7 linked regions of the Homo sapiens genome follow. The protein of the gene in region 1 purifies or fractionates together with the protein of each later gene. This does not show direct contact. Each region holds a gene or a part of one and is shown in the gene's direction. Other genes may lie near its edges.

Region 1 (3,500 bases):
GTGGTGGCTCACACCTGTAATCCCAGCACTTTGGGAGGCCGAGGCGGGCGGATCATGAGGTCAGGAGATCGAGACCATCCTGGCTAACATGGTGAAATCCCGTCTCTACTAAAAACGCAAAAAATTAGCTGGGCGTGGTGGCGGATGCCTGTAGTCCCAGCTACTCGGGAGGCTGAGGCAGGAGAATGGCGTGAACCCGGGAGGCGGAGCTTGCAGTGAGTGGAGATCGCTCCGTTGCACTGTAGCCTGGGCGACACGGAGCGAGACTCCGTCTCAAAAAAACAAAAACAAAAACAAAAAACAAGCTAGGTGCGGTCGCTCACAATCCCGGCACTTTGGGAGGCTGAGGCAGGTGGATCGCCTGAGGTCAGGAGTTTGAGACCAGCCTGGACAACAGTGAAACCTCATCTCTACTAAAAATACAAAAATTAGCTGGGCATGGTGGTGCATGCCTGTAATCCCCACTACTAGGGAGGCTGAGGCAGGAGAATCGCTTGAACCCAGGAGGCGGAGGTCGCAGTGCCATTGCACTCCATTCTGGGCAACAAAAGCGAAACTCCGTCTCAAAAAAAAAAAGGAAGTAAGACTAGGATTCTACTCAACCTTCTCATTTTTATATACCTGTATCTACTTTTCTTCTAAGCCAAACATTTTGGTTCTACTTGCTCACTGTTTCAACCCACACCGTACACATTTCAGTCTCAGAACAAGATGAACACGTGAACCTCGAAAATTTGAGACAGGTCTCGGTTAACTTAGAAAGTTTATTTTGCTAGTGTTGAGAATGTGTGCCTGTGACACAGCCTCCAGAAGTCCTGATTGACATGTGCCCAAGGTGGTTGGGCACAGCTTGGTTTTATACATTTTAAGGAGACATGAGACATCAATCAATATATGCTAGAAGTACATTGGTTCAGTCCAGAACGGCGGGGACAGCTTGAAGCAGGGAGGGAGCTTCCAGGTCACAAGTAGGTGAGAGACAAATGGTTGCCTTCTTTTGAGTTTCTGATAAGCCTTTCCTAAGGAGGCAACCAGATATGCATCTATCTCAGTGAGCAAAGGGATGACTTTGAATAGAGTGGGAGGCAAGGCTGGGCATGGTGGCTCACGTCTGTAATCCCAGCACTTTGGGAGGCCGAGGCAGGTGGATCACCTGAGATCAGGAGTTCGAGGCCAGCCTGGCCAGCATGATGAAACCCTGTCTCTACTAAAAATACAAAAATTAGTCAGGCTTGGTGGTGGATGCCTGTAATCCCAGGTACTCAAGAGGCTGAGGCGGGAGAATCACTTGAACCCAGGAGGCGGAGGTTACAGTGAGTTGAGATCGTGCCATTGCATTCCAGCCTGGGACAGAGTGAGACTCCGTCTCAAAAAAAAAAAAAAATAGGAATCTTAACATAGCATAATATTAAACTTTAATAGAGTTGTTTAATTGTTAATGCTTATTCTGGCCTTTCTACATTGAGGAACCTTGAGTTTAAAGGAATGAGGGGAAGCACATTTAATACAGTTTGCCTTTTGAGCTTAATTTTTCTAGAAGTACCTTTTTAAACAGTTGTTATAACTAATGTGTAACACTGTTTTTGATAACTGTCAGCTTAAACATGTTGAGCATATATTTATTTAATTAATTTATTTTTTTTGAGACAGACTCTTGCTCTGTCACCTAGGCGGGAATATAGTGATGTGATCATAGTTTGCCGCAGCCTTGAACTCCTGGGCTTAAGCCATTCTCCCACCTCTGACTCTGAAGTAGCTAAGACTGCAGGTTCATGCCAACAGGCTTGGCTAATTTTTTTTTTTTTTTGAGATAAGGTTTCAAAAGCCTGAGCTGTGTTGCTCAGGCTGGTCTTGAATTCCTGGTCTCAAGTGATCCTCCTGTCTCAGCCTCTGAATATGCTAGGATAACAGGCATGAGTCACTGCACCTGACCTGTTTCCAGGTTTTTACTGTTATAAGCAGTGCTCCAATTAATATTACATCTCCATATTGGGCACTTATGAGGTACATCTATAAATACATTCTCAGAAATGAAATTGCTATGTCAAAGAATAATTGCACTTTTCATTTGCATAGACATTTCCAAATTACCCTCCTGGCCCCAATTAATATTCTTACATTTCCATCTTTGGGCACCTATGAAGTATATCTATAGATACATTCTCAGAAGTGAGATTGCCATGTCAAAGAGTAATTACACTTTTACTTTCCGTAGATGTTTCCAGATTATCCTCCTAAGAAGTTACGTTGGTTTATACTCCTACCAACTGTGTATTTTCTCCACATAATTAAGTATGGACACTAAAGTAACAATAGTCCCTATCTTACATGGTTATTGTGAGGATTAAATGAAGTAAATGCCAAAAGGTACCTACTAAGCTGTCAGCAAATGACTTATATTATTAATATAATTATTGTTTTTTTCTGAACTTTATTACCAGAAATATTATAAACCTAGACAGTGCTTCATGAGGTTGGGAAAGAGGGTTCATACAATTGATCTGAGCAATATATGCCTCCAAAATACTGTTATCTGTATTAGAACAGACGAGCTCTGCATCTAGGCCTTGGGCCCAGGGAGTCTGGCATCTGGGGCTGACGTTAGGGGACAGAGTCCACAGGTATATCTCAAATTTGCTGGAAAGGGCATGCCTCAGGAATGGGGCGCAGTAGATGTAACTACATGTGTGCCTCTGCAGCCTGGAATGGCAGCTGTGGCTGTTTGCATGGGGAGGAGAAAGTCATCATTTGGGAGGGACCTTTAGAATATCCCATCCCAAACACTTCTCTCCTTCTCTTACTCTGAAGGGCTTAATTTAAATTTGCTTTGTGGATTAACGTATTGAGAATGATTTAGGGAGTTCCTTACCTAAAAAATGTTTTCCCTCATCTGCACACTGTCGCTTGAAATTTATTTCACAGGAGAGGGAGCCGTAACCATAGGCAGTGTGGTATTATGAAAGGAGTACTGGCTCTTCACTATGGGTTTACTGTGGTTTGCTGAGGGTAGTTGAGTGGGTGAGAAAGTCACTTAGCTGCCCCAAGCCTCACTTTTCTCCATCGGAAAATTAAGTAGCCATGTAATACATGAAAGAGAGAATGTTGTGAAAACACTTTGAGAATGCAAAGGCCAAGTGAAAACATATGTCCGTACAAAAGCTTGTGTGTGAATGTTCAGAGCAGCATTATGTTTAACAGACAAAAAGTGAAACACCCCAGATGTCCATCAGCTAATGAGTGGATCAACAAAATGTGGTCTGTTCATACGATGGAATAGTAGTTGGCAATAGAAAGGATTGAAGCACTCATACCTGGTACAACATGGATGAACTCTGAAAACATGCTAAGTGGAAGAAGCCAGACACAAGAGACCATGTGCTTCATGATTTTACTTATGTGAAATGTCTTCAATAGGCAAATCTTTTTGTTTTTTGTTTTTTGTGAGACTGAATCTCACTCTCTTGCCCAGGCTGGAGTGCAGTGGTGCGATCTTGGCTCAC
Region 2 (3,500 bases), on another chromosome or scaffold:
GGCTTATTTGGGTCAGAGAGGTGAGATCAACAGGAGGTTGATCTGGTACTGAGACTTAAGGTAATAATGTGAAAGTGTTATCAGGGCAAGCTTTAGCCTCAGCACTATTGATATTTTGAGCCAGATAAGTCTTTGTTGGGGGGAGGAGTAGACCGTGTTCTACACCATAGGGTGTTAAACAGTGTCCCTGGCCTTTACCCACAAGATGCCAGTAGCACCCCCTACTCTATTTGTGACAACCCAAAATGTCTCCAGACATTGCAATTCACTCCCAGTTGAGAGCCACTGACTTACAGCATAGACCAAAGGCACAAAAAGATCAGATCATGCTTCTCCGTGAGCTGGGCACAGTGGCACGCACTTATAGTCCTAGTTACTTGGGAGGCTGAGGTGGGAGGATTGCTTGAGCCTCAGAGTTAAGAGCCAACCTGGGCAACATAGCAAGACCCCATCCTTTAAAAAAAAAAGAGGGAGTTGAAAGTACAGAAAAGAAAGGAAAAGTAAGCATCCCCTGTGGATTCCTCTTTCTAGGCATGATCAAGCAGTTCCTCCGAGATGTGGACTGGGGAGAGGTCGACTACCTCATTGTGGACACCCCACCTGGGACGTCGGATGAACACCTCTCGGTCGTCCGGTACCTGGCCACAGCACACATCGATGGAGCAGTGATCATCACCACTCCCCAGGTGAGCGAGCTGCCAGCTGGAGCTGGGTCCAAACTGTGCTCCACACTGTGAGATTTCTTTCCTACCTGGCTCTGATACTCTGGTCTCACCAAGGCTCTTCCCAGTGTGTGTTCCGCAGCTGCATCTGATGTGGGTCTGCAGAAACCTCGTGTTAAAAACTTCAGCCAGCACAGTGATTCACACCTGTAATCCCAGGACTTTGGGAGGCTGAGATGGGAGGATCACTTGAGCCCACGAGTTCGGGACCAGCCTGAAAAACATAGCAAAACCCCATCTCTACAAAAAATATTTTAAAATTAGCCAGGCATGGTGGCTCGCGCCTGTAGTTCCAGCTACTTGGGAGGCTGAGGTAGGAGGATCATTTGAGCCTGGGGAAAGGAGGTTGCAGTGAGCCATGATCACGCCAGTGCAGTCCAGCCAGCGCAAGCGAGTGAGGCCTTGTCCCAAAAGATAAAAATAAGAAAAACTTCATCTTTGGTCTAGACATTTGCAGCTGACAACCATTCAACGATTTGGTTTTTTTTTAGTCCATGGATTAAACAATAGTGGGTCAAGAATGCTTTTTGAACTTTCCTTGAGGAAACTAGGGAAACCACCAGTGCAGTTATAATTCATACTGTGCTGCCTGGCCCCGTCAGCCTTGCCGTGTCCATGTGTCAGGTCCCCCAGCCTACAGTGGATTTTCCGTTTACATCCCAGGATGATTTAGGAAATCTCTCCAGTTTTCAACAGAACCAGCTGGGTGCAGATAGGGATTTCGGGATAAGCCACTGGGTGCCTTCGCTTCTTCCGTAGTGACACCCAGCAACCCTCTGTAGCAGTCACCTAGTGGCTGTACTCCAAGGCCCATGGTGAGCCCGAGCTGAGAGGAGAGCGATAGGAAGTTTCCTCTCTGTAAGTCCTGCAGAGAGCAACTGCAGGCAGGACCATGGTGCTATCCATCTCAGGGGCCTGAGAAACTGAGGGCTCTTCTCCATCTCCACAGTTACGCCTGACTTCTCTTCATGACGTTCTCCTCCACACTTAAGAAAGCCCAGCAAAGGAGGTTTGATTTGATCTCACTGGCCAGAATCAGTCAGGACGACCCATAGTCTCACCTCATCCAGCACTCACTGAGCTCTGACTCTGACATGCCGGGCACCAGGGCAGTAAAAAGGCCTGGCTCTCCCTGGTGGCCCCTGTGGCTCCCTGAGGAACACAGGTGCTGGACACAGGGATGAGGGTACAGCCAATGGAGTGGCAGGCCCAGCGGCCATGGGAAGGGTGTCCGGGTCAGAAAATGGTGCAAGATTCATGTCCACCCTGGCATCCTGCAGAGAGGGGACATGGGGACGCAAGGAGGAGCAGGACACCAGCTGGGACCCTGGACAGGAGGGAGGATGGCCTGGCCCGGGTGATGGCAGTGGAGAGAAAGTGTATTTGTCCTTAGGAATGTTTTCTGTCCCATTTTTAAAAAGTGGTTGGTGCTGGGCACACTGGCTCATGTCTGTAATCCCAGCACTTTGGGAGGCCGAGGCAGGCAGATTACTTGAGGTCAGGAGTTCGAGACCAGACTGGCCAATATGGCAAAACCCTGTCTCTACCAAAAAAATACAAAAATTAGCCAGGCGTGGTGGTGGGCACCTGTAATCCCAGCTACTTGGGAGGCTGAGGTGGGAGAAGTGCTTGAATCCAGGAGACAGAGGTTGCAGTGAGCCGAGATCGCGCCACTGCACTCCAGCCTGGGCGACAGAGCAAGACTCTGTCTCAAAAAAAGAAAGAAAGAAATGAGAGACTGAGTCGCAGCCCATTGACTTTCTAGCTGAGCGCCCCTTCCTCCGCATCCCAGCCTCAGTGTCAAGAGCCAAACAGGCATCTCAGGAAAAGAACAGGCCCAAAGCTGCGAGCCTTTCGGGCTCACGTGAGTGGTGAAGCTCCAGGTGCTAAGGAGTCACTACACCTGACAGTGACAAGCCACAGCAGGACTTGGGTACAGGGATCTGTGATAACATTAACTGAGGAAAATAGGGAGCTACTGAGCGGTGTTTATACACAGTAATCACATTGGAAAAACTCAGAGTTGAGAAGGAAATGCAAAGTTGTCCACATTGGGCAGTATTCCTTATTTCCTTTTAGTCAGTTGTTTGTGTTTATAATTATCTAGAGCAGGGATTGGCAAACTTTTCTGTAAAGGGCCAGATAGGAAGTAGGCGTTGCGGACCCCACGGTCCCTGTCCCAGCCCCTTAGCCGTGCCACTGTGGCATGAAGCAGCCACAGACGGTGCCTAGAGGGACGGGCATGGCTGGTTCCGGAGGAACTTTATTTATAAAACCAGCCAGATTCAGCCCCCAGGCTGGGGTTTGCCAAGCTCTGGTCTAGAAAACAGTGCACACACTGGCTTAATATAGTATAGTATAGGGACATGGAGCATGTAGATGCGTTAAAAGGTCATTTTCAGATAGGCACAGTGGCTCACGCCTCTAACCCTAACACTCTGGGAGGCCGAGGCAGGAGGATCACTTCACACCAGAAGCTTAAGACCAGTCTGGGCAACAACCATCTCTATAAAAAATTAAAAAGTTAGCCAGGCAGAGTAGCACATGCCTGTAGTCCCAGCTACTCTGGAGGCTGAGGCAGGAGGATTGCCTGAGCCCAGGAGGTCAAGGCTGCAGTGAGCAATGATTATGCCACTGCACTCCAGACTGGGCAGCAGTGAGATCCTGTCTCTAAAAAAAAAAGTCATTTTCTTTTAGGTTGATTTCTTGCTATTTGGCTGTGTGGGAAGTAAATAGCACCTCGAACAAACAGGGCTTAGCACTAGTAGGTACTAAATA
Region 3 (3,500 bases), on another chromosome or scaffold:
AGCCTTTCTGGGGCCAGAACATGCCCCAGCATCTTACTGCCATTAAAACCCTTTATGGTAATGAAAATCTGTAGGCCTTCCCTGTGGGGATCCTTAAGAAGCATGAGCACTTGCTTTCACTGCTTAATTCATTTTATAATTGTGTGTTTTAGTTTTTTGAATTTATATTTGGATAATACATTCCCTGTTAAACATACATATTTGGGTAACCAATCTCCTATTAACATATATTCTACCTGATTATATAACAATAGAAGGGATCATAAGTAATAATTTTTGACCGTTTACTATGTTAGGCACTGTGCTGAGCACATTTTCTGCATTATCTAGTTTAATTTTCTCAACCACTCTATGAGAGAGCAACTCTCATTATTCACATTTTACAGCCATGGAAACTGAGGCACAATGAGATTTAGGGGACTTGCCCAAGATTGTGTAGTTGTATCATTATTACTCCAAGTCAGGGCTTAAGCCTGATGTAGGGTCAACTGTGAAGTGCAGGCATGTCACAAAGACTTTGGATTATTCATTATGGGTAGTCACACATTGATGTTTGCAGGGCAGTGAGGTATTGTCTCACTCTCTTGCATCACCATAAGCTCCCTGCTGTGGAAGAGAAGGCGTGGGCACACACAGCTAGCTACAGGAAGTCCCATCAAACCTGGGACATGCCCACAGAAGCATGGCTCACCTGGGAGCATCACCTGTCCTGCCTATCATGGTGGACAATATCTGAGAACTGCTGCTTAAGGAAAAGTGGGATGTGTGGAGCATCACTTATGTTCCTGATGCCCCCCACCCCAAAGTCAGTCAGGCCTTGATTTTCTACCTACTGTCCTCTCATAAAAAGCTCCAACTCCCAGTGTCTCTTTTGATCTGTGGCCTAAATCTCTCTGCAAGTACACCAGCACCACCTGCCAAGCCCATTATCTGTCTGTCCGGGCTCTGTGCTGGGTGGGCCCTGCTCACTTACAGCCCTCCCAGAGGCAGGATCACACCCCGGTCTCCTGATCTTACAGCCACTACTCTTACTGAAACAGCACTGTGGTGTTATGCATAGTACACCTTTTAAAAAATGATGCATTAGTTAGGCCAGATGTGGTGGTTCATGCCTGTAATCCCAGGGCTTAGGAAGGCCGAGGTGGGTGGATCATGAGGTCAGGAGTTCAAGACCAGCCTAGCCAATATGGTGAAACCCTGTCTTTACTAAAAATACAAAAATTAGCCAGGTGTGGTGGCATGCGCCTGTAGTCCCAGCTACTCGGGAGGCTGAGGCAGAAGAATTGCTTGAACCCGGGAGGTGGAGGTTGCATTGAGCCGAGATCACACCACTGCACTCCAGCCTTGGTGACAGAGAAAGACTCTGTCTCAAAAAAAAAAAGTAAAAAAAATTAAAAAGATTCCTTAAACAGTAGTATTCCCTCCCAAGCTGTATCCCTCTATGTGCCAGGCATACAGTGATCTTCATATCCCTGATAACAGTCCCCTCACAGAGGCAGCTTTCAGAAAAGGATATGGAGTTTGTGACAGTGACTGAAGATATGCATTTTAATGGTACAAAGATTGAAAGTGGGGCTGGGAACGGTAATCCCAGCACTTTGGGAGGCCAAGGCAGGCAGATCACTTGAGTTTGGGAGTTCGAGATCAGCCTGGCCAATATGGTGAAACACTGTCTCTATTAAAAATACAAAAAATTAGCCGGGCGTGGTGTCAGGCACCTGTAATCCCAGCCACTCAGGAGGCTGAGGCAGGAGAATCGCTTGAACCTGGGAGGCAGAGGTTGCAGTGAGCCGAGATTGCGCCACTGCATTCCAGCCTGGGTGCAACAGAGCGAGAGTCCATCTCAAAAAAAAAAAAAAAAAGGTTGGAGGTGGAATGACTCTTCAGTTTAGTCAGTTTGAGGGTGCATATCTTTTGGGTGATGTTCTGCCCATACCAGCCACCCATGTATTCCTCTAGCTCTGCAAATGCAGGGAACAGGGAGCACACAACGATTAGAAATGGTCATCCTCCTCTCGTAAATCTGAAGAAGAACGCTGGTTTTTGTTCTAGATCTGTCCTGAAATTCCTTGGGCAAATCTTTCCTTGCTCTGTGCCTCAGTTCCCCTAATGGGAGAGTGTGTGCACTGATGATCTCTAAGCATCCTTGCAGCTATAAACTTCTTTGACTCCCTAAGGTACTGGGGGCTGAGTTAAAGTGAAGCCCATGAGGATAACTCCAATCCCCCCAATAGGAATCTGCTTTAGCAGTAAGCCCACACCTAGAAGCCTGCTTATGTTTGAAGAAGAGAAGGGAACAATTGGTTGATGTTATGTTTCTTGAGATACCCATCTCCAGGGGCGACGTTCAAAATATTTAACCACCAGTGTGTTGTGAGCACAGACCCGTCAGGAGGTTAGAAGGCAGCGGGTAGGGCCAGCAGGGACTGTGGCCAGAGAGCATGCCCCGTCCTCCTCTTAGCTCTGCAGGGCACTGCTCACCTCGCTGCTTTCCTGGGCCTTTCTCCAGCTTTTTTTTTGGTCTGCCTCTTCCTGCCTGATTCTCCATCCAGGGCCCCAGCTTAACCCTCTTTTGGCTTCTTCTCTCTCCGGAGCCACCTGATACTCAACTCAACTCCTGTGAATATCTTTATGCATCCAAACAACAACTCAATCATATTCATCACTCAGCAGATGCTCTTTCAGTGCCCTCTGTGCTCAGACTGGAGTCGGCTGCCTTGACCCCTCACCTCCTCTCCTTCAAAAATGTTAGAGGCAGGGATGGGCTGGAGGATTGAGACCTGAGTCCTAGCCTCTCTCTGCCCCTTGTCTGCCTTTGACCTTGGACAAGTCCCTCCCTGTCCTGGGGTTTCAGATTCCTTACTTGTAAAACGAGGAACACCATGGATTCCATGAGCTCTGAGGTCCCTTCTGTTCGATGATGAGTTTCTGGAGAAGTGCAAGTCTTCAGCAGCTGACCACTCTCTCTTTCTCTCTCTCTCTTTCTCTCTCTCCTGCCCCCCCACAACCTCCAATGTAGAATGCACTGCTGCCTGCAGGCCTGAGGCAGAAGGATCAGACCACCAAGGCGCCCACGGGCCCCTTTAAAAGAGAGGAGCTCTTGGATCACTTGGAAAAGCAAGCAAAGGAGTTTAAGGACCGAGAAGATCTGGTCCCCTACACAGGGGAAAAACGAGGTACTGAACAATGTTACTGTTATAATATGCCACTCCCCATGCACCATTGAGTGCCGACTGTATGCCAGGCCCTGCCAGGCCCTGTGTTGGGCCAAATGTGACTGGGCCTCCTTGTCCTCATCCCTGCCTGGCCAAAACACCCAAACCCAACTTCAAAAGCATCTATGGATGATGTAGATTTCATGAAGTTTTGGGGGTAGACTGAGGAAAGACTCCTATCCACTCAAATCAGCAAAACTTTTCCCTAAACCCTCTTTCACTAGGATGTCCTGATTATTTTTTTACGCAAACCTAAACAGTTTTGAGAGTAAAAGAAGAAACTGT
Region 4 (3,500 bases), on another chromosome or scaffold:
TGTAATCCCAGCTACTCGGGAGGCTGAGGCAGGAGAATCGCTTGAACCAGGGAGGCGGAGGTTGCAGTGAACCGAGGTTGTGCCACTGCACTCCAGCCTGGGTGACAGAGCGAGGTTCCGTCTCAAAAAAAAAAAAAAAAGAGATTGGATTGGAGGCAGGGAGGGCTGGAGTCTTCCACACAGGAGGTGGTGTGAGCTGTGCCAGGGCTGAGGTGGGTGGAGGGAGTGAGGAGAGGGAGGGATTGTTGAGGCAGTGGGGAGCTATAGTGAGTCTCAGGGATGACTCCCCCCAGCTCACGCTGGTGGGATGGACAGGTGGTGGGTATCCATCTGAGAGATGGAGAGCCCTCTGCAAATCCAGCATGTCCTGGTTCCAGGTGGGGCCGGGGTGGTGAGGAGCTGGGCTGGTGGGCGGCCTCGGTGACAGAGCCTCGCCGCCCCAGCGGGGCAGCTGGCTGGGACCTCGTCGGTGGAGATGTACCGCCAGGCACTACTATGGGGCTGCCGCTGCGTGGAGCTGGACGTGTGGAAGGGACGGCCGCCTGAGGAGGAACCCTTCATTACCCACGGCTTCACCATGACCACAGAGGTGCCTCTGCGCGACGTGCTGGAGGCCATTGCCGAGACTGCCTTCAAGACCTCGCCCTACCCCGTCATCCTCTCCTTCGAGAACCATGTGGACTCGTGAGTGAGCCCCTGGCATGAAACCCCATGGACCGGGGGACAGTCTTCCAGCTTCAGTGCTGTTGGACTGCTCAGGGACCTCCAACCCTGCGAACGGCCACTGACATGTCCCGTAGACCTCAGCTTCCTCTCTGGGGGAGGGATCTCTGACCTCTGACCTCGGTTCCGCAGGGCAAAGCAACAGGCAAAGATGGCTGAGTACTGCCGCTCCATCTTTGGAGACGCGCTACTCATCGAGCCTCTGGACAAGTACCCGGTACGGGAGCTCGGAGCGAGGGGGGTGGCATGGGGGCCAGGGTGCTGCGGACCCGGTCCAGGGCCCTGACTCGTCCATGCCTGCCCAGCTGGCCCCAGGCGTTCCCCTGCCCAGCCCCCAGGACCTGATGGGCCGTATCCTGGTGAAGAACAAGAAGCGGCACCGACCCAGCGCAGGTGGCCCAGACAGCGCCGGGCGCAAGCGGCCCCTGGAGCAGAGCAATTCTGCCCTGAGCGAGAGCTCCGCGGCCACCGAGCCCTCCTCCCCGCAGCTGGGTAGGCCCCAGCCCGGCCCGCCACCCTGACTTGACCCTAGCCTCTGGCCTCATGCTCCAGGCGCCGTGACACTTCATCCCAGACCCCCAGCCCACCCTCCTGCCTCGCTGTGCGCCTGTTCCCACAACCGGCCTGTCTCCTCACCACCTGTCGGCTGGTGTGGGGCCTCTGACCCCTGACCTCAGGTGCACGTCTCACCCAGCTGCACCCCAACTCCTGACTCCCAACCTCAGCCTCTCACCTCTCAGAGCCTTCCCACAACCCGGTGATGGCTCTGAAGGCTGACCTCTGACCTCAGTAAACCACATCCCACACTGGGTGTGACCTCAGACCCCTAAGCCCGCATTGAGTTCACCTGCCCAGTTGGTTATCATTTCAGCTGACCTCTGACCTCTCACCCCTGACTGTTCACCTCACTATGCCCCCTCCTTAGACATGGCTCTGACTTACCCCTGACCTGTAACCTCTCTATGTCATCCCTTACCCCGCTATTAGGGCTGTGGTATGCTACTTCCTGACTTCTCACCCCACTGAACCACCCTATCTGCCTCCCTGCTGAATATCACTGCAGACCTTTACCTTTGACCTATGACCCCTCTCAACCCATACTGGGTTAATACCATCTGACCTCGACCTCTTGGCCTCTCCCCAAGCCACACTGCCCTGAGAGTACCCCTTGAATTCCCCACTGAGTCACCTCGGCACACACTGGGAAAAACCCCTCCAGACTTCCTAAGCAGCTGTGTGGTCCTGACCCCTCACCCTGTGGCCCTGTCCTCTGCAGGGTCTCCCAGCTCTGACAGCTGCCCAGGCCTGAGCAATGGGGAGGAGGTAGGGCTTGAGAAGCCCAGCCTGGAGCCTCAGAAGTCTCTGGGTGACGAGGGCCTGAACCGAGGCCCCTATGTTCTTGGACCTGCTGACCGTGAGGATGAGGAGGAAGATGAGGAAGAGGAGGAACAGACAGACCCCAAAAAGCCAACTACAGATGAGGTCAGGCCCACAGGGTGGGCAGGTCGGGGAGGTAGCATCTATTTACCTCCCAGGGGGCTGGGTCTGACCATCAACAAGACTGACATCACCCCTGCCTCCTGGGGCTCAGTGTGGGTGTGAGTGAAGGTGGGAGGAGGGCTCTTCAGTCATCAGGCATGGAAACAAGCATACAGTTCTGCTGGTGATGTGGCCTGGGAGGTGCGAGTTAGGGTACAGAACTGGCAGAGGATAGGGAGTCTACCCTGGGCAGGGAGGTGGGGCAGGGAGACCTCAGGAAGGGGGACAGCATGTACAAAGGTCCTGGGGCAGGGCCAGGGGGTGCAGGAGCGGGGAGCATTGTCATGGGGAGCATTGAGTAGCTGTGAGGAATGGTACAGAAAAAATCAGTCTGAGCTGGGCGTGGTGGCTCACACCTGTGATCCCAGCTACTCGGGAGGCTGAGGCATGAGAATCCCTTGAACCTGGGAGGTGGAGGTTGCAGTGAGCTGAGATTGCACCATTGCACTCCAACGTGGGCTAAAAAGGGAGACACTATCTCAAAAAAAAAAAAAAAAAAAAAAGACATCATTGCTATAAAGACAATTACTGGAGCAATTAGTGAAATTTAAAGATGGACTACATATTAGATAATATGTTAATGTTTTGTTTCCTGAATTTAATTATTGTATTGGAGTTATAGAAGAGAATGTCCATATATGCTGAAGTATTTATGGGTAAAGGGTCATGATGTCTATAATTTACTCCCAAATGATTCAGTAAAAGTAATGATAATTATAACACCTATATGGGCCAGGCGAGGTGGCTCATGCCTGTAATCCCAGCACTTTGGGAGGCTGAGGTGGGCGAGTCACCTGAGGTTGGGAGGTTCCAGACCAGCCTGGCCAACATGGTGAAACCCCATCTCTACTAAAAATACATAAATTAGCCGGGCAAGGTGGCGGGCGCCTGTAATCCCAGCTACTTGGGAGGCTGAGGCAGGAAAATTGCTTGAGCTGGGTGGTGTCCAGGGCGCATCAGTGAGACCCCGGGGAGAAGACTGTCGGCACCACCAGCAGTGTGTATATAGTGCTGGGAAGAGGGTCAGCACCTCCTTCATGGGGGGCAGGTGAGGGAATGGCCAGCTGTGGCGGGAATGGCACTGCTGACCCTGGGTTGGGGCCCACAGGGCACAGCCAGCAGCGAGGTGAATGCCACTGAGGAGATGTCCACGCTTGTCAACTACATCGAACCTGTCAAGTTCAAGTCCTTTGAGGCTGCTCGAAGTGAGTGGGGGTGGGTGGCAGGCATGGGAGCTT
Region 5 (3,500 bases), on another chromosome or scaffold:
TGTTGTACTTGAAGTAGAGGTCTGATACTGTAGTAGTCCATTTTCACACTGTTATAAGGACATACCTGAGTAATGTATAGATAAAGGAAATAGGCTTAATTGACTCACATTTCCACATCGCCGGGGAGGCCTCAGGAAGCTTAAAATCATGGCGGAAGATCTCTCTGCACAGGGTGGCAGGAGAGAGAATGAGTGCTGAGCAAAGGAAGAAGCCCCTAATAAACCATCAGATCTCCCCCTGAGAACGAACTCACTGTTGTGAGAACAACATGAGGGAAACGGCCCGGGGATTTAATTATCTCCACCTCGTCCTGCCCTTGACACGTGGGGAATATTACAATTCAAGGTGAAATTGGGGTGGGAACACAGAGCCAAACCATCTAAAATATTTTAAGAAGACAGGATTACGATTCTCCTCGGGCATGTTTGTATTTTTAGCAGTGATGCATGTATGTGCTGCTTCACACAATCACCTGGAAACATTTGTTTCTAAAACCTTGTGTTTAGAAGCGCAGAGACGGGATAAGAAATGCTTTTAAGATGAAGAAGTTCCTGTCCAGGAGGAACGTTTCAGCATGTGTCTATAGGGAAGAGGTGTGCTCTTAAGGCACCTCCATGTGGGCATTTTCTTCTGCAGGCTCCAACAAACTAGGAGAAACCATACGATGTCAATAAGGCTTGCTAGTTTTTTATTATTCTCTGCAAACTACAGTTACACTTGGATTTGATCAGCCCTTTTAACATTTCATAGCTGCTTTTCCACCTTGTTTAACAATGTGTCTGGGTATATGACAAGGTAATTACCAAACTCTTAGAATCTGCAGGTTGTCTGTAGTTGAAGAATGAAGGTGAATTGCTCTCTGCCAACAGCCAGCTATGTTTTTGTTTGCTTTAATTTTCTGAACACACAGCTGAAGGGTATGAACAAAACATTGTAGATCTGGGTTTCTAATATTTGGCTTTTTCCATTATCAATGATGGTTTCTCTATATTTTATTTTGAGACAGGGTCTCACTCTGTCACCCAGGCTGGAGTGCAGTGATGTCATGACGGTTCACTGCAGCCTTGACCTCCTAGGCTCAAGTGATCCTCCCACCTCAGCCTCCTGAGTAGCTCGGACTACAGGTGCATGCCACCACGCCTGGCTAATTTTTTTTATTTTTTTGTAGAGATGGAGTTTCACCTTGTTGCCCAGGCTGGTCTTGCATTCCAGGGCTCAAGCAATCTTCCTGCCTTGGTTTCCCAAAGTGCTGGGATTACAGACATGAGCCACCATTCCTGGCCAATGCCAGTTTCTTGGCAGCTGTATTCTCTAAACATTTATTTATTCAAATTCATCTGTCAGTTTTAGGGTACTAAATCTCTCAGCAAGCAAGTAAAGCAGAAGCTTTCCAGGACTTCTGGTAATTTTCTGTATTGCTCAAGATGCAGGAATAGATCATGTAATATTCTTCCCAATCCTCTGGTACATAGTGAAATATAATTTAGGAAAACGTTTTTTGAAATTACATTTTCTAGAAGGAAAGTTATGTATAGGACCATAGCTTGGGCCAGTTTCATTTTTTTCTTACTTTCCATAGACTCAGAACAATGAGAAATTATCCTAAAGCATTCTTATAGAAGCATTGTTTTGACAACCAATTGTTCAGAGTGCACCTTATTATCATTCTATTTATGTGCTGTTTACTTATATTTTTTTTTGAGACAAGGTCTCTGTTGCCCAGGTTGGAGTGCAGTGGCATGATCTCAGCTCACTGCAACCTCCACCTCCTGGGCTCAGGTGATCCTCCCACCTCAGCGTCCCAGGTAGCTGGGATTACATGCCCCCATCACCATACCCAGCTATTTTTTCTATTTTTTGTACAGTTGGGGTTTTGCCATGTTGGACAGGCTAGTCTTGAACTCCTGACCTCAAGTGATCCGCCCACCTTGGTCTCCCAAAGTGCTGGTGTTACAGGCATGAGCCACTGCACCTCGCCTGTTACGTGCTTTTTAATGTCTAGATTGAGGATGGTTTGTCATAGATGTTGTATATATTTACAGAGTCCTTACCACTTGAGAATTTTTAATATGCAAAGATGACAGTGGTCCTTTTAACTTATCCTCTAAAAAGCCCAAATAGGATTTTTTCTTAAAAGACACAAGCTAAATTTGAAGTAAGTAACTAAAAATTAAATATACCTCTCATTTTGTTTGATGTTAAAATCTACAAAGATTTAATAAACATTTTTTGGTTCATAAAAAGATGATGCTGTTCCTAAAGCTGTATAAGAAACATAATTTAAAAACATTTCTTGTAGAAACAGGGCCTCGCTTTGTTGCCCAGGCTGTTCTCTGTACCCAGAGGAAATAAACATTTATCTGTTAGTTTCTGTTTGTATTTAAATATTTCAGAGTTCCTAAATGTTTCTTTACATGAGATCAACAGCCTTCACAATTATAAATACTGTAGAATTTTAATCTTGTAATAGTACGTTTACATTTTGACTATCAGAAATTTGACGAAAAAGACATATAAGGCTATATTTGTTCAAAGTATATCTAGACTGCTTATCTATATTTGAAAATGAAAATTCAGCTCTTTACAATAAGTCTAAATGGCATGTGGTGTTCATATTGATGTCTTAGTGATTTGGTAAGGCAATAACTTACATGATCGTACTAGCTTTGAGACAGACAAGTTCAGGAAGACCAGATACTATATGAGCTGGCATTTGGCTGTTTGCAAGTAGAGGTTACAGTGGCACAGCAGATATTTGCCCAATACTATAGCAAATGCCAAATTTGCATGTAACCTACTATTTCGCCTCTAATGAGTCCAAAAGATTATTTAAAACAATTCTTTTTAAAATTGCCTTATGAATATGATTTTCTTTTGGCTTTATATTTTTGAACACATTAAATGTCGAGGAGGGAACTGGGCTATATGAGATAGAATCAAAGCGCTGGGGACCTTTGGAGGGTGGCCGTGGACAGATTCAGCCAGTTTCGTCTTCATTATTTGGTAGAAAATGCTTTTCAGGTATATTTTGTAATATTTTGACTTGAGCAGTGTCGGGCTTTTAAGTCCTGAGTTTGTTTCCATCAAAAAATCAGAGTTTAAAAGCAGTCAAATGTGTTTGTGTTTTCCAGACATTCCAGTTTTATTTTCATGGTTTTCACTCTAGCTACAATTTGACGCATGGAAACATTGTGAGCCTGCATTGTTAAATTGAGTGTATTACTGCATCTCAGGTTTAGTGAGAATTGCTGAAACTACACTAAGATTTATGGCCGTGTGACGTGGTACACTTGGTTTGGCATTGGATTGAGCATGGTGCTGCATGACATCAGTGTGCTCATTTGTACGGTGCAGATGCCTGTATAGGTGCAGGCCAAGTTTCAAAGCACATCCTGGGTGGGGTACAGTGGCTCATGCCTGTAATCCCAACACTTTGGGAGACTGATGCGGCCGGATCACTCGAGGCCAGGAGTTCGAGACCAAGCTGGCCAACACGGCA
Region 6 (3,500 bases), on another chromosome or scaffold:
TTCAGAAGGATATAACTCACCATCCTCCCTGTGTATTCACTATAGATCTTGGGGGTTAGCAGCGGGGCCATTTACTGTTGTGCAGGCCTGTGGGATTCCAGCCGGAGAAGAGTCAGGCTTCCCACACCAGCAAGTTATACAAATAATTAACATTCAGCAAGTGCCCACTCTGCACTAGGCACATCTCCAAGCACTTTACACTGATTTTCTCATTTATCACAACAGTCCATCAAGATATCTTATTATTATTCCCATTTTACTGGTGTGGGAGCAGAGACACAAAAACACGAAGTCACTTGGCCAAAGTGACTTTCAGTGAGTGGAGGAGTCAGTACTCAGACGCAGGCAAGATCATCCAAAATTCGCCTCTTCTTTTTTTAGAGAAAGGATCTTGCTTTGTCACCCAGGCTGCAGTGTGGTGACTCAATCATGGCTCACACAAACCTTGAACCCCTGGGCTCAAACGACCCTACCACCTCAGCCACCCCAAGTAGGTAGGACTACAGGTGCACACTTCCATGCCTAGCCTATTTTTGTATTCTTTATAGAGACAGGGTCTCATCATATTGCCCAAGCTGGTCTCCAACTCCTGGATTCAAGGACTCTTCCCACCTCAGCCTCCTACAGTGTTGAGATTACAGGCACAAGTCACTGCACCCAGCCCAAAACCTGCCTCTTGACCACCAGTCTGTTCCATGTATTTCTAATATGAGCAACAGCTCTTAGTCATGCATTCCCACCATCCACCCACCCAAAAGGAGAGCAGCCAATCTGGGGTCCCAAGTTTAATGGAGGAAGAGAATTTACCCAGAATAGTTTGTTCATATTCACACAGTGGTTTTAAAAACAAAAAAATTGATTCTGCTCCAGAATATTCTAGGTGCATTTTCTGACCTTCTTTTTCTATTGCAGATTAAGAAATGGGGCCAGGGGAGGGAAGGGGGGTGTGATTTCTTTTCAGGTTATTTTTTAATATTTATTTTTAAACAAATTCCATTATTTGGAGGCTTCTGGTGTTTAGACTTCAAATCTACTAATCTTAGTCCATAATTCACTCATGGGACAGTCCCTAAACATTTTTCCAGAGACAGTTCTGAGACAGGGTTTGTTTAAAACTCTGTGACAAGGTGAGAAAAGATCTATAAGTCAGAGAAACAAGACTCCATCATCTCTACAAAAAAATTTTTTAAATTATTAGGTGCGCGTGGTGGCACATGCCAATAGTGCCAGCTACTCAGGAGGCTTGAGGTGGGAGGACTGCTTGAGTCCAGGAGTTTAAGGCTGCAGAGAGCTATGATTGAGCCACTGCCCTCCAGCCTGGGTTACAGTGAGACACTGTCTCTAAAAAATAACAAAATTTGGGGTCAAGTGTGGTGGTTCACACCTGTAATCCCAGCAGGAGGATCGCTTGAGGCCAGAAGTTTGAGACCAGCCTAAGCAGTATAGCAAGACCCAGTCTCTACAAAAAAAAAAAAAAAAATGGAAAAGGAAAAATAAATTAGCCAGGCCTGGTGATGCATACTCATAGTCCCAGTTACTCAGGAGGCTGAGGCAGGAGGATCACTTGAGCCCAGGAGCTGGAGGCTGCAGTGAGCTATGATTGCACCACTGCACTCCAGCCTGAGTAGCAGAGTGAGACCTTGTCTCAAAAAATACCATTTTTTAATTTAAAATTTAAAAATTTTAAAAATTAAAAGTCCAGACAACTGCAGGGCTTTGGGCGATCCCTTTTCTTTCAGAGCCATTTCCTCCTCAGTGATATGGAACTATGCATCCTCAGGCAGTATGCAGGTGGCACAGGGCTGTGTGTCTGTAAGCACTTAATAAAACAAGTTCAAATGTAGGACACGAGCTCTCCTCTCTGCCCCCTCCTCTTCTCTAGGACACGGAAGTTTCCAATCAGATCACCCTCGTGGAAGACGTCTTAGCCAAGCTCTGTAAAACCATTTACCCGCTGGCCGACCTCCTGGCCAGGCCACTCCCGGAGGGGGTCGATCCTCTGAAGCTTGAGATCTATCTCACCGACGAAGACTTCGAGGTAAGCGGTTCTTCCGGTGGGGTGGGGATGGGAGTAAAACAACACACGCACGCCCGGCTCCTTTCACTGAGCCGCGGGGCGCTTCTCCCAATGTTTCCAGTTTGCACTAGACATGACGAGGGATGAATACAACGCCCTGCCCGCCTGGAAGCAGGTGAACCTGAAGAAAGCAAAAGGCCTGTTCTGAGTGGGGAGACGCCAGAGGAGCCTCACGGTCACGTCCAACAACACCACTGCACCAGGGAAATGGATATATATTTTTGGACTGGTGTTTTTCACAAAGTATTTTTCAATCAGAGTTTTCAGAACCTGACATTGTTAAAGATACTGCTTGTCCCGGAGTTGTGTATTTTGTAAATGTTCAAGGGAACTGTTTGGAAACTTCTTTCCACCATTCAGGAGGTTATCAGAATTAATAAAAGTATCTGTTATGTGCACTTAAGCCGCAGCTGCTATAGATAGCACTGCCTTCTTGTTCCAGCTAGGCAATGCCTTTTTTTTTTTTTTTTGAAGCAGTTCTCTTTATAAAGTGTTATTTTGATAGTTTGTGGATTCTAAAATATATATATATTTATATAAACACCATATAAGTCAAATATGTATTTAACAAAGCAATATGTATTCATTCACTTTCAAGATTTGTTTTGGTGTCAAAATAACATGAAAAGGTAGATGGAGTTGCTTCTGTTGAATTAGCTCTGCCACCAATATGTATCTTCATACACGTTTGGAAATGTTTCCTGCAGCATTAGGTATGACTTGTTCTGAGTACTGCTTCCGGTGCTAAAATGAACAAAGAATTTGTACTTAATGGCATGGACTCTGGAGAATCTATGCGAATCAACCTTTCTACCTTAATATCTCCCCAAAAATGTATAGTGCCTTGTTTTTATGTACAGTTTATATACAGAAAAGTTTGCTCTGCATTTTTGATGATGGTTTGGAACATTATCTACAATTTTACTCTCAAATAGTCAAAATAAAAACATCTCAATTTCTAATACCGGTTGTAAACAGTACACATGTCATTTTGTGATATAGGACTCCCAAATAAAAGTATCAGAATAAACACAACAATTAACTGGTTCACATTGAATTCCAAGCATGTTCCTTTCTGGAATTTTTTTTTTTTTTGGTAAATATTAACATAGCACCAAATTTTGTAATTAAGTATAAATGACTATACATTTGAATTTAGTTTAGGGCAAGATTTTATACAAGGTCATAAGATTAAATACAGAGTTATTTGCCCCATAAAATTAGTACTCAGTACTATAATGAAGACATACTTTTGCAAATCATCATTCAGCAGAAGTTCTTTATCCCACAGCTATATCTATCTACAATTTCAATTTTAGGATCTCAATGCCCTTTAAAAAATTGTATGGGCCAGGCGAGGTGGCCCACACCTGTAATCCCGGCACTCTGGGAGGCTGAGGCAGGCGGATCACCTGAGACCAGG
Region 7 (3,500 bases), on another chromosome or scaffold:
CAACGTGATGGTGAAGAAGCAGGTGTTTGAGCTACTGGCTGCCCTGTGCATCTACTCTCCCGAGGGCCACGTGCTGACCCTGGACGCCCTGGACCACTACAAGGTGGGCGGCAGGGCCTGGGCCTGGGCACATGGGGCTCCCTGCCTGGGTGTGCCCTGACCCCGCCCTCCCCACAGACGGTGTGCAGCCAGCAGTACCGCTTCAGCATTGTCATGAACGAGCTCTCCGGCAGCGACAACGTGCCCTACGTGGTCACCCTGCTTAGCGTGATCAACGCCGTCATCTTGGGCCCCGAGGACCTGCGCGCGCGCACCCAGCTGCGGAACGAGTTTATCGGTAAGCACCTGCCCTGGGCCGCATGCCCGCTCCTGCCCGCCTCTTGGCCAGTGCATCCCATGCTGCATCCACCTGGGGAGGTGGGAGCGCCACAAAAGCTGCCCCCGACCCAGGGCCCCAGAGGAAGGCGCCATCTCGGGCCTGCCACCACCTGCCCCTTCAATGGACACAGGCCTCAGAACGCCTGGGGGTCAACCCTGGACCGTTCTCATTTGTGAGACTGGCCAGGCAGTGGAGCCGGACAGGGGGCCTGAGACCTCGTTCTAGCCCTGCCAGTTCTGGCAGTGAGCCCTGAGTAAGCATCACTGTGTGTCCAGCATGATGTCTCCCCTCCAGAGCCTCAGGTCTCTGGTGTCCCATGAGTGCAGCAGGGCAGGGTCAGGTGCTCTGGGTGGCAGAAGTGAAATGGGGAAGGCGGGGAGTGGCCTCCGAACCCTCTGACCCTGTCCGTCCCTTCCCAGGGCTGCAGCTGCTGGACGTCCTGGCTCGCCTGCGGTGAGTCCCCACTGTAGCGGTCCTGCCGGCTCCCCCTCCTGCTCCCAAGGCCAGGCCCACCTGCCCTTTGGCTCCCAGCCACCTCACCTAAGCAGCACCTCCAGATGGCAGGGAGGTGGCTCCCTCGGAGTAACCCCAGGGGTCCAGCCAGAAGCCAGGTCTCAGGCTAGAATCCAGCTCACTGTCCCTGGCAGCTGCCCACAGAAACTAGGGTTGCAGCAGCCATAGAAAGGACAGAATGAGCTCATATCCTTTGCACACCGTGGATGGAGCTGGAGGCCGTGATCCTAAGTGAACCAACCCAGAAACAGAAAATGAAATGCCAATAAGAGGGAACTACAGGGTGGTTCACGTGGACGCAAGATGGAGACAGGGACACGGGCTCCAGGGCGAGAGTTGAAAAACTACCTACAGGGTACAGTGTTCGTCGCTACTTGGTGTCAGGCCCACTAGAACAAGGGTCCCCAACCGCCAGGCTGCGGACCGGTACCTGGCCTATTGGAACCGGGCCACGCAGCAGGAAGTGAGCGGTGGGCGGGCATTCCTGCCTGAGCTGCACCTCATGTCAGATCAGCACTGCATTAGATTCTCCAGCGCACGCACGCGCGCAAGGGATCCAGGCTGCGCGCTCCTCATGACAATCTAATGCCTGATGATCGGGGGTGGAACAGTTTTATCCCTAAACCATTCCCGTCACCCCAGTCTATGGAAAAATTGTCTTCCACAAAACCAGTCCCTGGTGCCAAAAAGGCTGGGGACCACTGCCCTAGAAGGCAAATCGCCTACGTTACACAGTGTACCATGTGGCAAACACGCACATGTACCCCCGAGTCTAAAATAAAAATTTTTTAAAAAAGAAACTAGGGTTGCCAGGTACTGTATGGGACATGCAGTTCATTCAGGTTTCAGATACACAACAGACGATATTTTGGTGTAAGTATATCCCAGATGTTGCATGGGATATACTTATGCCAAAAGTTATTCATTGTTTGTCTGAAATTCAAATTGAACAGGTACTCTGTAGTTTCATTTGCTAAATCTTGCAGCCCTGCTGGGAACCCACATAGCTGAGAAGCTCTATCCAGGCCTCAGTCAGGACTGTACTCAGGGGGGTGTCCTTACACCCAGGGAAATCAGCTTGGAGGAGCCCAGGGCTAGAATGCCTGGTGTTGAAATGGCCTCAGGGGCCAGGCGCGGTGGCTCACGCCTGTAATTCCAGCACTTTGGGAGGCCAAGATGGGCAGATCACCTGAGGTCAGGAGTTCGAGACCAGCTTGGCCAACATGGTGAAACCCCATCTCTACTAAAAGTACAAAAATTAGCTGGCCGTGGTGGCATGTGCCTGCAATCCCAACTACTCAGGAGGCTGAGGCAGGACAATCATTGGATCCCAGGAGGTAGAAGTTGTAGTGAGCTGAGATCGTACCACTGCACTCCAGCATGGGTGACAGAGCGAGACTCCATCTCAAAAAAAAAAAACAGAAATGGCCTCAGCAAAGTTTGCCCACATGGGTGCCTGTGCCCCACCAGTGTGGGCTGAAGGGGGCCGGCCCTGCCTGCGGAGGGCTGTGCTCATTGACCAGACTGAGATGACTGGCAAGTCCTAGGCCCAGTGAACACTAAGTTTCCTCCTGCTCAGGCCAGAGCCCCGCCCCTCCTGTATCCATGCAGCCCTGTGGACCCACCTCAGGTGTGGTCTTCACTGTAGTCACGCAGCGCCCAGGGGAGGGCCTTCCCTCCCCCAAGGTCACGGCCCGGTTCCATTGTGTGCCACCTCCCCAGGCCTTGGTGCACGTTACTCGATGGGAGTGGGCATACTCGCCCTTCCCCTTCCCCAGGGGCGTGCGGGTGCCTGGTGACCCGGGGGCAGCCTGGCAGGGCGCAAGGCACTGACCTGGGAGCTGCCACTCTTAGGTCGCTATCCCTGGCTATGTGGGTCACATGTCAGCCACAGCTGGCTATGGCCTGGCTCAGAGTCCCAGGTGGGCTGAGCGGGGCTGGTACACTGGCGCTGACCCAGGCTGCCCCGCCTGCGTGTTGGTGGTGGCAGCAGCAGGCTTAGCCCACCTGGCCCCTCCTGCACAGAGACCTGGAGGATGCCGACCTGCTGATCCAGCTGGAGGCTTTCGAGGAGGCTAAGGCCGAGGACGAGGAGGAGCTGCTGCGAGTCTCTGGCGGGGTCGACATGAGCAGCCACCAGGAGGTCTTTGCCTCCCTGTTCCACAAGGTGGGCTGGGGGCTGCAGGGCGGAGGGCAGCCCTCCAGGGCAGGCTGTGGCCCTGAGGTCCAGAGGCTGGGCCTGGAACGGTCCTCCCTGCCCTGGTCAGACCCTGCTGTGACCTGGGCCATGGTGCCAGCTTTGGGGTGAGACTCCAGGGAGCAGCAAGGACCCAGGGGTTGGAAAGGGAGGTGGCGCCTAGAGCGGGCAGCCTGGGGGCCGGGCTGGGCCCTGGGGGCAAAGCCAGGGCCACAGGACCCAGAAGGACGGGGCTCCAAAGACCAGTGCGGCCCACAGCCGGCCTTACTGTCCTGGGCCCCAGCTGCCCAGTCCCCATCAGGTGGGCTTCAGAGGCCTCAGGGCTTGGTGAGGGGCTAAGAGGCTGAATTCTCGTCAAGCTCAGGCCTTCCCCTCATTCCCTGAACCTTGCAGCTCTCATCTGGGGGCAGT

Evidence for each region.
Region 2: the proteins of ADD1 (region 1) and NUBP1 fractionate together in Homo sapiens (co-fractionation; one large-scale study listed by BioGRID). This does not show direct contact.
Region 3: the proteins of ADD1 (region 1) and TMOD1 purify together in Homo sapiens (affinity purification with mass spectrometry; one large-scale study listed by BioGRID and IntAct). This does not show direct contact.
Region 4: the proteins of ADD1 (region 1) and PLCB3 fractionate together in Homo sapiens (co-fractionation; one large-scale study listed by BioGRID). This does not show direct contact.
Region 5: the proteins of ADD1 (region 1) and NSUN2 fractionate together in Homo sapiens (co-fractionation; one large-scale study listed by BioGRID). This does not show direct contact.
Region 6: the proteins of ADD1 (region 1) and SVIL purify together in Homo sapiens (affinity purification with mass spectrometry; one large-scale study listed by BioGRID and IntAct). This does not show direct contact.
Region 7: the proteins of ADD1 (region 1) and INF2 purify together in Homo sapiens (affinity purification with mass spectrometry; one large-scale study listed by BioGRID and IntAct). This does not show direct contact.

What each region holds. Positions count from the first base shown.
Region 1 is NC_000004.12:2,846,844-2,850,343, forward strand, and holds part of ADD1 (alpha-adducin), read left to right. Parts: intron 1-3,500. UniProt on the Homo sapiens protein: Membrane-cytoskeleton-associated protein that promotes the assembly of the spectrin-actin network. Binds to calmodulin.
Region 2 is NC_000016.10:10,757,342-10,760,841, forward strand, and holds part of NUBP1 (cytosolic Fe-S cluster assembly factor NUBP1), read left to right. Parts: exon of another isoform or gene 1-531; coding exon 532-686; exon of another isoform or gene 687-936; intron 937-3,500. UniProt on the Homo sapiens protein: Component of the cytosolic iron-sulfur (Fe/S) protein assembly (CIA) machinery. Required for maturation of extramitochondrial Fe-S proteins.
Region 3 is NC_000009.12:97,543,166-97,546,665, forward strand, and holds part of TMOD1 (tropomodulin-1), read left to right. Parts: intron 1-3,019; coding exon 3,020-3,176; intron 3,177-3,500. UniProt on the Homo sapiens protein: Blocks the elongation and depolymerization of the actin filaments at the pointed end. The Tmod/TM complex contributes to the formation of the short actin protofilament, which in turn defines the geometry of the membrane skeleton.
Region 4 is NC_000011.10:64,258,030-64,261,529, forward strand, and holds part of PLCB3 (1-phosphatidylinositol 4,5-bisphosphate phosphodiesterase beta-3), read left to right. Parts: intron 1-443; coding exon 444-684; intron 685-855; coding exon 856-940; intron 941-1,028; coding exon 1,029-1,215; intron 1,216-1,999; coding exon 2,000-2,205; intron 2,206-3,370; coding exon 3,371-3,467; intron 3,468-3,500. UniProt on the Homo sapiens protein: Catalyzes the production of the second messenger molecules diacylglycerol (DAG) and inositol 1,4,5-trisphosphate (IP3).
Region 5 is NC_000005.10:6,626,545-6,630,044, reverse strand, and holds part of NSUN2 (RNA cytosine C(5)-methyltransferase NSUN2), read left to right. Parts: intron 1-3,500. UniProt on the Homo sapiens protein: RNA cytosine C(5)-methyltransferase that methylates cytosine to 5-methylcytosine (m5C) in various RNAs, such as tRNAs, mRNAs and some long non-coding RNAs (lncRNAs).
Region 6 is NC_000010.11:29,456,972-29,460,471, reverse strand, and holds the end of SVIL (supervillin), read left to right. Parts: intron 1-1,882; coding exon 1,883-2,038; exon of another isoform or gene 2,039-2,138; coding exon 2,139-2,225; 3' UTR 2,226-3,134; downstream 3,135-3,500.
Region 7 is NC_000014.9:104,703,118-104,706,617, forward strand, and holds part of INF2 (inverted formin-2), read left to right. Parts: coding exon 1-103; intron 104-177; coding exon 178-337; intron 338-798; coding exon 799-832; coding exon of another isoform or gene 833-836; exon of another isoform or gene 837-1,692; intron 1,693-2,917; coding exon 2,918-3,059; intron 3,060-3,500.